Linked DNA regions of Homo sapiens: region 1 is linked to region 2. Evidence: fine-mapped expression QTL. A gene starts in region 2. The other region holds a variant in brackets. All regions are shown on one strand. Distances are between the middles of the regions. Region 1 overlaps ZUP1 (zinc finger containing ubiquitin peptidase 1). Region 2 holds the start of FAM162B (family with sequence similarity 162 member B).

Evidence for each region. PIP is the estimated chance that this variant, and not a neighbour inherited with it, causes the effect.
Region 1: its variant is fine-mapped to the expression of FAM162B in subcutaneous fat (GTEx, PIP 0.94).

The regions. Positions count from the first base shown.
Region 1 is chr6:116,654,663-116,657,580 of GRCh38, reverse strand. It overlaps ZUP1 (zinc finger containing ubiquitin peptidase 1), which reads left to right. Exons shown (of 10, transcript NM_145062.3): 5 at 729-897. Among named protein-coding and RNA genes, the nearest start is that of ZUP1, 13 kb to the left of the region's middle. The variant G/A (reference allele first, on the strand shown) is at 1,425.
Region 2 is chr6:116,763,994-116,766,911 of GRCh38, reverse strand. It overlaps FAM162B (family with sequence similarity 162 member B), which reads left to right and starts at 1,193. Exons shown (of 4, transcript NM_001085480.3): 1 at 1,193-1,507; 2 at 1,657-1,765. The coding sequence starts at 1,336. LOC105377963 (a long non-coding RNA gene) reads right to left here and starts at 544. Exons shown (of 3, transcript XR_942910.3): 1 at 373-544; 2 at 191-269. RefSeq lists an enhancer at 1,658-2,172.

The sequences.
Region 1 (2,918 bases), 110 kb after region 2:
AGAATGTGCTTTGGAAGACCTAATGTAGGATTTTTTTCTCACTGGTGACTCACAATACTTGCAAAATAGGAAAGAAAATTGGCTTTTCTTAAGACTTTTATGCCTTATGTAATTTAAAACATGATCAATACAAAAAGTTTCCAATATTTAAGGAGGTTATGTAATTTTGCAAGTTAGTTGTTTAGATCTCAGAAAATTTTTCTGTAGAAAAGTTTCCGTGAAAACTTTTCCATAGACAATTTTTCCATAGTTTTATACATACTATTTGAGATTTCTGTCCAGTGTACAAAACATAGTTCATTTACTGTGTAACATGACTGACTAAATGAATTATGGATTAAGTAGGCCTTTATGGACTAGACTGGGAACCAAATAACAAGGACTGACAAGTTTCCTTGAAAAAATCAGCAATGCATTCAGAACTCTTCTGCATCTCCCAATACCTGAGGTAGAAAGACAGGATCCTCTGCTTTCCCTACTACAGGAAAAGCAAGTCTCTTGCCCTGGAGATTGATTATAAAGAAGTGGTTGCTTATTAAGTCAATAATTTTTTTTTGTGTGTGTGTGTGTGTGTGTTATTAGTTTTTGTAAAAATCTTTAAGTTAACTTGTATAAAGTCTATAAACCAGAATGTTTCAACATGTTTCCAAATAAAATTTTAATAAGTTTCCATCCTCATAGAGTTACAGGGATGTAAAAATTAAGTCATTTATTTTTATGTTCAATAGAGACAATATGGTTTAGATAATTCTGGAGGATACAAACAACAACAACTACGAAATATGGAGATAGAAGTAAATAGGGGAAGAATGCCTCCATCTGAATTTCATAGGAGAAAAGCTGATATGATGGAATCATTAGCTCTTGGTTTTGACGATGGAAAAACAAAAACTTCCGGTGAGTATTTAAACATCAGAGTCATTGTTTTAATATTGCTTATACCACTGAAGTAATAATCAGAATCATTTTAATTTTGCTTAATTTTCATAATCTGTGCACAAATATTTTTTTAAAAATGTATTGTTTTAAAACTTCTGAATTATTTTTATGATAAATAATTCACTTAAAAATTTACTTTTATATTATGTTACTTGACATTTAAAAAGCTATGCTCTAGAGAGTGCTAAGAGAAATATAATGTGAGCCACATATATAATTTTAAATTTCCTGGCTCCACATTAACAAAAGTGAAAAGGAGGCTGGGCGCGGTGGCTCATGCCTGTAATCCCAGCACTTTGGGAGGCTGAGACAGGCGGATCACCTGAGGTCGGGAGTTCGAGACTAGCCTAACCAACATGGAGAAATCCCATCTCTACTAAAAAAAAATTACAAAATTAGCTGGGCGTGGTGGCACATGCCTGTAATCCCAGCTACTAGGGAGGCTGAGGCAGGAGAATCGCTTGAACCCGGGAGGCGGAGGTTGC[G/A]GTGAGCCGAGATTGCGCCATTGCACTCCAGCCTGGGCAACAAGAGCGAAACTCCATCTCAAAAAAAACAAAAAAAAAACAAAAAAAAGTGAAAAGGAACAGGGGAAGTTAATTTAAATAGTTTAAACCAGTGTATCCATGATATTATTATTTCAACATGTAATCAACATTAAAACTATTACTGAGACATTTTACATTGTTTATACATTCTTCAAAATCCATTGTGTATTTTCTACTTCACAGCACAACTCAATTGGGCAGCCACATTTCAAATTCTCGATAGCCACAAATGGCTATTGGCTATTTTATTGTTTGTACATTTTTAGACACTAACAACTCTATATACATTGTATCATTTAACTCAAAACATCCTCTCCTGTACTGTTATATATTCCAAATGAGGTCACTGTTGCTTAGAGAAGTTACAGTGACTTTGCCAAAGCAAGGTTACACAGCTGGTTATTCCTAATCAAATCTTCCTTGCCCCATAATATGGCTTTTTTCTGATGAGTATTAAAATTTTTTTCTTTGTATATATTAGTATATTAACAGACTTTTTATGGAAACAACTTTGTTACTGTCACCCAGATTTTTTGAATCTTAATGTTTTGCCATATTTACTTAAAAGTTTTTAAAGCTTCAACACCTTTGATAGGTATTCAAAGCCCTTTATGTACACTTTTTCTAATTCTAATTTGCCCTCCCCACAAGGGAACTATTATCCCAAGTTTGATATTTATCAGTCTCATACATGCTTTAGTACTCTTACCATGTATGTACATTTCCATAAAATATTTTGCAGGTGTTTATATATAAATGGGATACAACATGTATGCTATAAATTGTTTTGCTCAAATATATTGGTTCTTACAGTTCTACTTCATTCATTTTAGCTGCTGTGTAGTATTTCCTTGTATGAATTGTAGCTAACTTATCTTGTTTTCATATTGATAAACATTTAGATTGTTTCCAGTTTTCTACTCTTATAATTTATGAACATGTCTACTTCAGGAGTTTCTCTAGTATTACATCCAGAACTGGATGTAGCTAATTATAGCTAACTTATCTTGTTTTCATATTGATAAACATTTAGATTGCTTCCAGTTTTCTACTCTTATAATTTATGAACATGTCTACTTCAGGCGTTTCTCTAGTATTACATCCAGAACTGGAATGCTAAGTTAAAGGGCGTGCAAATCTTCAACGTTGTTAAGGTTATTATAGAATTGTTTTCCAAAGTGCTTGTAATCTACATTCACACCAGTGTATTTCACACATAGTATGGTGACACTTTTAAATTTTTGCTATTTAACAGGTTATGAGATGATACATGTTTTAATTTGCATTTTCTGGATTACTCCTGAGTTAGTTTCCTCTTGAACGAATTACCTGTTCTCTTCCTTTCTCTATTCTCTATTGAGTTGTTTGTTCTTACTGATTTATAGGAGACTGTTAAGTATTCAGAACACTATTCTTTCATTAGTTATATGAAAT
Region 2 (2,918 bases):
AATGTATGTCTTCACAGAGCTATTAACCCCTCTTTTTTTGTTTAACACGGTTATGTAAAAAGAAAAAAAAACTGAGCTGGCAGTTACAGAAAAGTTATAGCTTTCAAGAGCCTGACAGTCTAGTTAGGAAGCAAAATATCTAGAAATCCAACAAGTGCAAAGCAGTGTCTAGATAAGGAGGGAAACTCACAGGCAGTAATAGCAGAGGAGGGTGAGCTCGGCCTGGTGCTGGGCTGATGAGCACTTTGACTTGGCAGGAGGTCTGTTGTCTGTGGAACAAGATAAGTAAATTGCTTGTACAACCCTTCTCTCCAATCATTGAATCTGAATCCCTGTTACCATTTAATGCCTGAAAATAGTAGATTCTTTTACCTTTTAGCATAGAGGAGATGGTGGAAGGTGACAGAAGAAAGGCACATTTTGAAGGGAGTGTGGAGAGTTTGTGGGCTAAGAGATGAAGAGGTAGGAAGCTGGCATGGCGGCTCATACGTGTAATCCCAGTGCTTTGGGAGGCAGAGCCCAGCTGATAGCTTGAGGCCAGGAGTTGGAGACCAGTCTGGACAACATAGTGAGATCCCATCTCTTAAAAAAAAAAAAAATAGCGGAGCGTGCTGGCGCACGACCAAAGCCCTAGCTACTCTGGAGGCTAAGGTGGGAGGACTACTTGAGTCCAGGAGTTCGACGTTACAATGAGCTATCAGCATGCCACTGCACTTTAGCCTGAGTGACAGAGCCAGAGACTGTCTCTGAAAAGAAGAAGAAAAGATAGAGAAAGGCACTTGGAGGAATTGAGATTGTTTTCCGTAGGAAAGAGAAAAGGTATGGGGGTGGGAGACGATGAGGTGAGGAGCTAACTTCAAGAAATCTCATCCAGAAGTTAGTGGAGTGCCCTTAACACTTAATTGGGAAATGTCTTCAGTTTCCTGCACTTGAAGGATTGTTGTCTCTTCCTGGAAGAGAGGATTTAGATTTATTCTCCTGGGGAACAAACGATGGAATCAAAGGCTAAAAGCCTGGCGGGAATACATTTCTACTCAATACAAAGAATTTAAAAGGAGCTACACGCACTGCCTCAGGCGGTGGTGAGCCTGTTTCAAACAGAGGCAGGCTGCTTCCTGAGGAACCAGCCCCTCGGGGCTTGACGCCCTGATCCCGGGTCGCTGGCCGGGGGCGGAGACGGGGATAGCGAGCTGAGTGTGCGAGCGCCAGGGGTTCCAGCTGCACGTCCCAGGCTCTCCAGCGCGCGGCAGGCCGGGGCGGGACGAGGAGAGCTGCGGGGACAACGCCTGTGGCTGGGTCCGGAGGTGCGGGTGCGGCGCGGGACAAGCGGGCAGCATGCTCAGGGCGGTCGGGAGCCTACTGCGCCTTGGCCGCGGGCTAACAGTCCGCTGCGGCCCCGGGGCGCCTCTCGAGGCCACGCGACGGCCCGCACCGGCTCTTCCGCCCCGGGGTCTCCCCTGCTACTCCAGCGGCGGGGCCCCCAGCAATTCTGGGCCCCAAGGTCACGGTGAGCCAGGGCTCCGACGGGGAGGTCCTGGGAGGGAGGAGGTTGCGGGAGGGCAGCGAGGGGCCGGCCCGGGAGTCGGCTTGAGGGCGCGCTGATCCTCTGTGCCGGTGCGTCAGTTCCCGCGTCCATCTGGGTTGCTTTCGCTGCAGGGGAGATTCACCGAGTCCCCACGCAGCGCAGGCCTTCGCAGTTCGACAAGAAAATCCTGCTGTGGACAGGGCGTTTCAAATCGATGGAGGAGATCCCGCCTCGGATCCCGTAAGTGTGGCGACCGCCGCGCGAAGGAGAGTCGGTCCCCGGCCGCAAGGGTGCGGGGTGACCCACCTTCCGACCGCGGCCACCTAGGAGCGAAAGCGGCCGCAGTGCCAACACTTCGCAATATCACCCACCACACACGGAGTTTACCCACACACACACCCCGCCTCCAGTGCGGTGTGTCAAGAGTCAATTAAGCTTACAGGGAGATTGCAGAAGGTGGGTGAAAACTGAGAGGTTCAGGGGACACTTCCAGCACCGCCCAGATTGCCGGTCCCCAGCAAGCTCCGAACTGGGAGGCAGTGGGGCTCTTGTGCCAAACAGGCCACGGTCCTCGCGAGCATCCGGATGGCTGCCGGGACGCCAGACCGCAATCCAGGCTTTGGCCGGGGGCGTCCCCCTACCCCACCCAAGGAAGGGGTTCTCTGATCTTGGCTTGCGGGGCGGCTGTGGCGGGGGGGTCTCTGGAAAAAAGACGCATCCATGCGGCCTCCTCTTCTGGGGCAGGAGACGCCTGGCGGACGTGTTTCTGCAGCCCTCTAGGCTCCGGGTTTACTCAGGGTGGGACGCGCGGGAGTGTCAGCACTGTGGGCCTCTTCAGCATGCTAAACCCACCAAGACAGATGATAAAACTCAAACTAATAACTCCCCCTCTAAGGTAATGTAACCTGTAAAATAAATGCTAATAATAAGTAAATGTAACCTGTAAAAAAATCTTTCCAAAGTTTCTGTTTCTGCCAAGCCCAAAAACCTTCGCAGCATTTTTACAAGGGATTGGGTAAAAAAGAGAGGGACGGAAACTAAAAATAAAATCAATCTACTACTTTTTAAGTTTATCTTTTAAAAATAAAAGACTAAAACCATAACGTGAAAGAAGGATTTTAGATATTCTGTATATTTGTACAATGTAATGAATGCCTATTAGAATGGATAATGGAAACTGGGCCTATATTTCTGTTTTTCACATGGTGCCTGCCATGTTATTGTTTATAAACAATTGCAGTTTATCAGTTACCAAAGCATCTCAGATAGCTAGGGGGTGGGGTGGGAGAACATGGCAGGAAATGTACACTCAGTAATGAATTCTGAAGCATTTTCGTTCTTTTATTGGAGCAAGTCACCAAATGAGAAATGGACATGGAATTTGAAATAACAC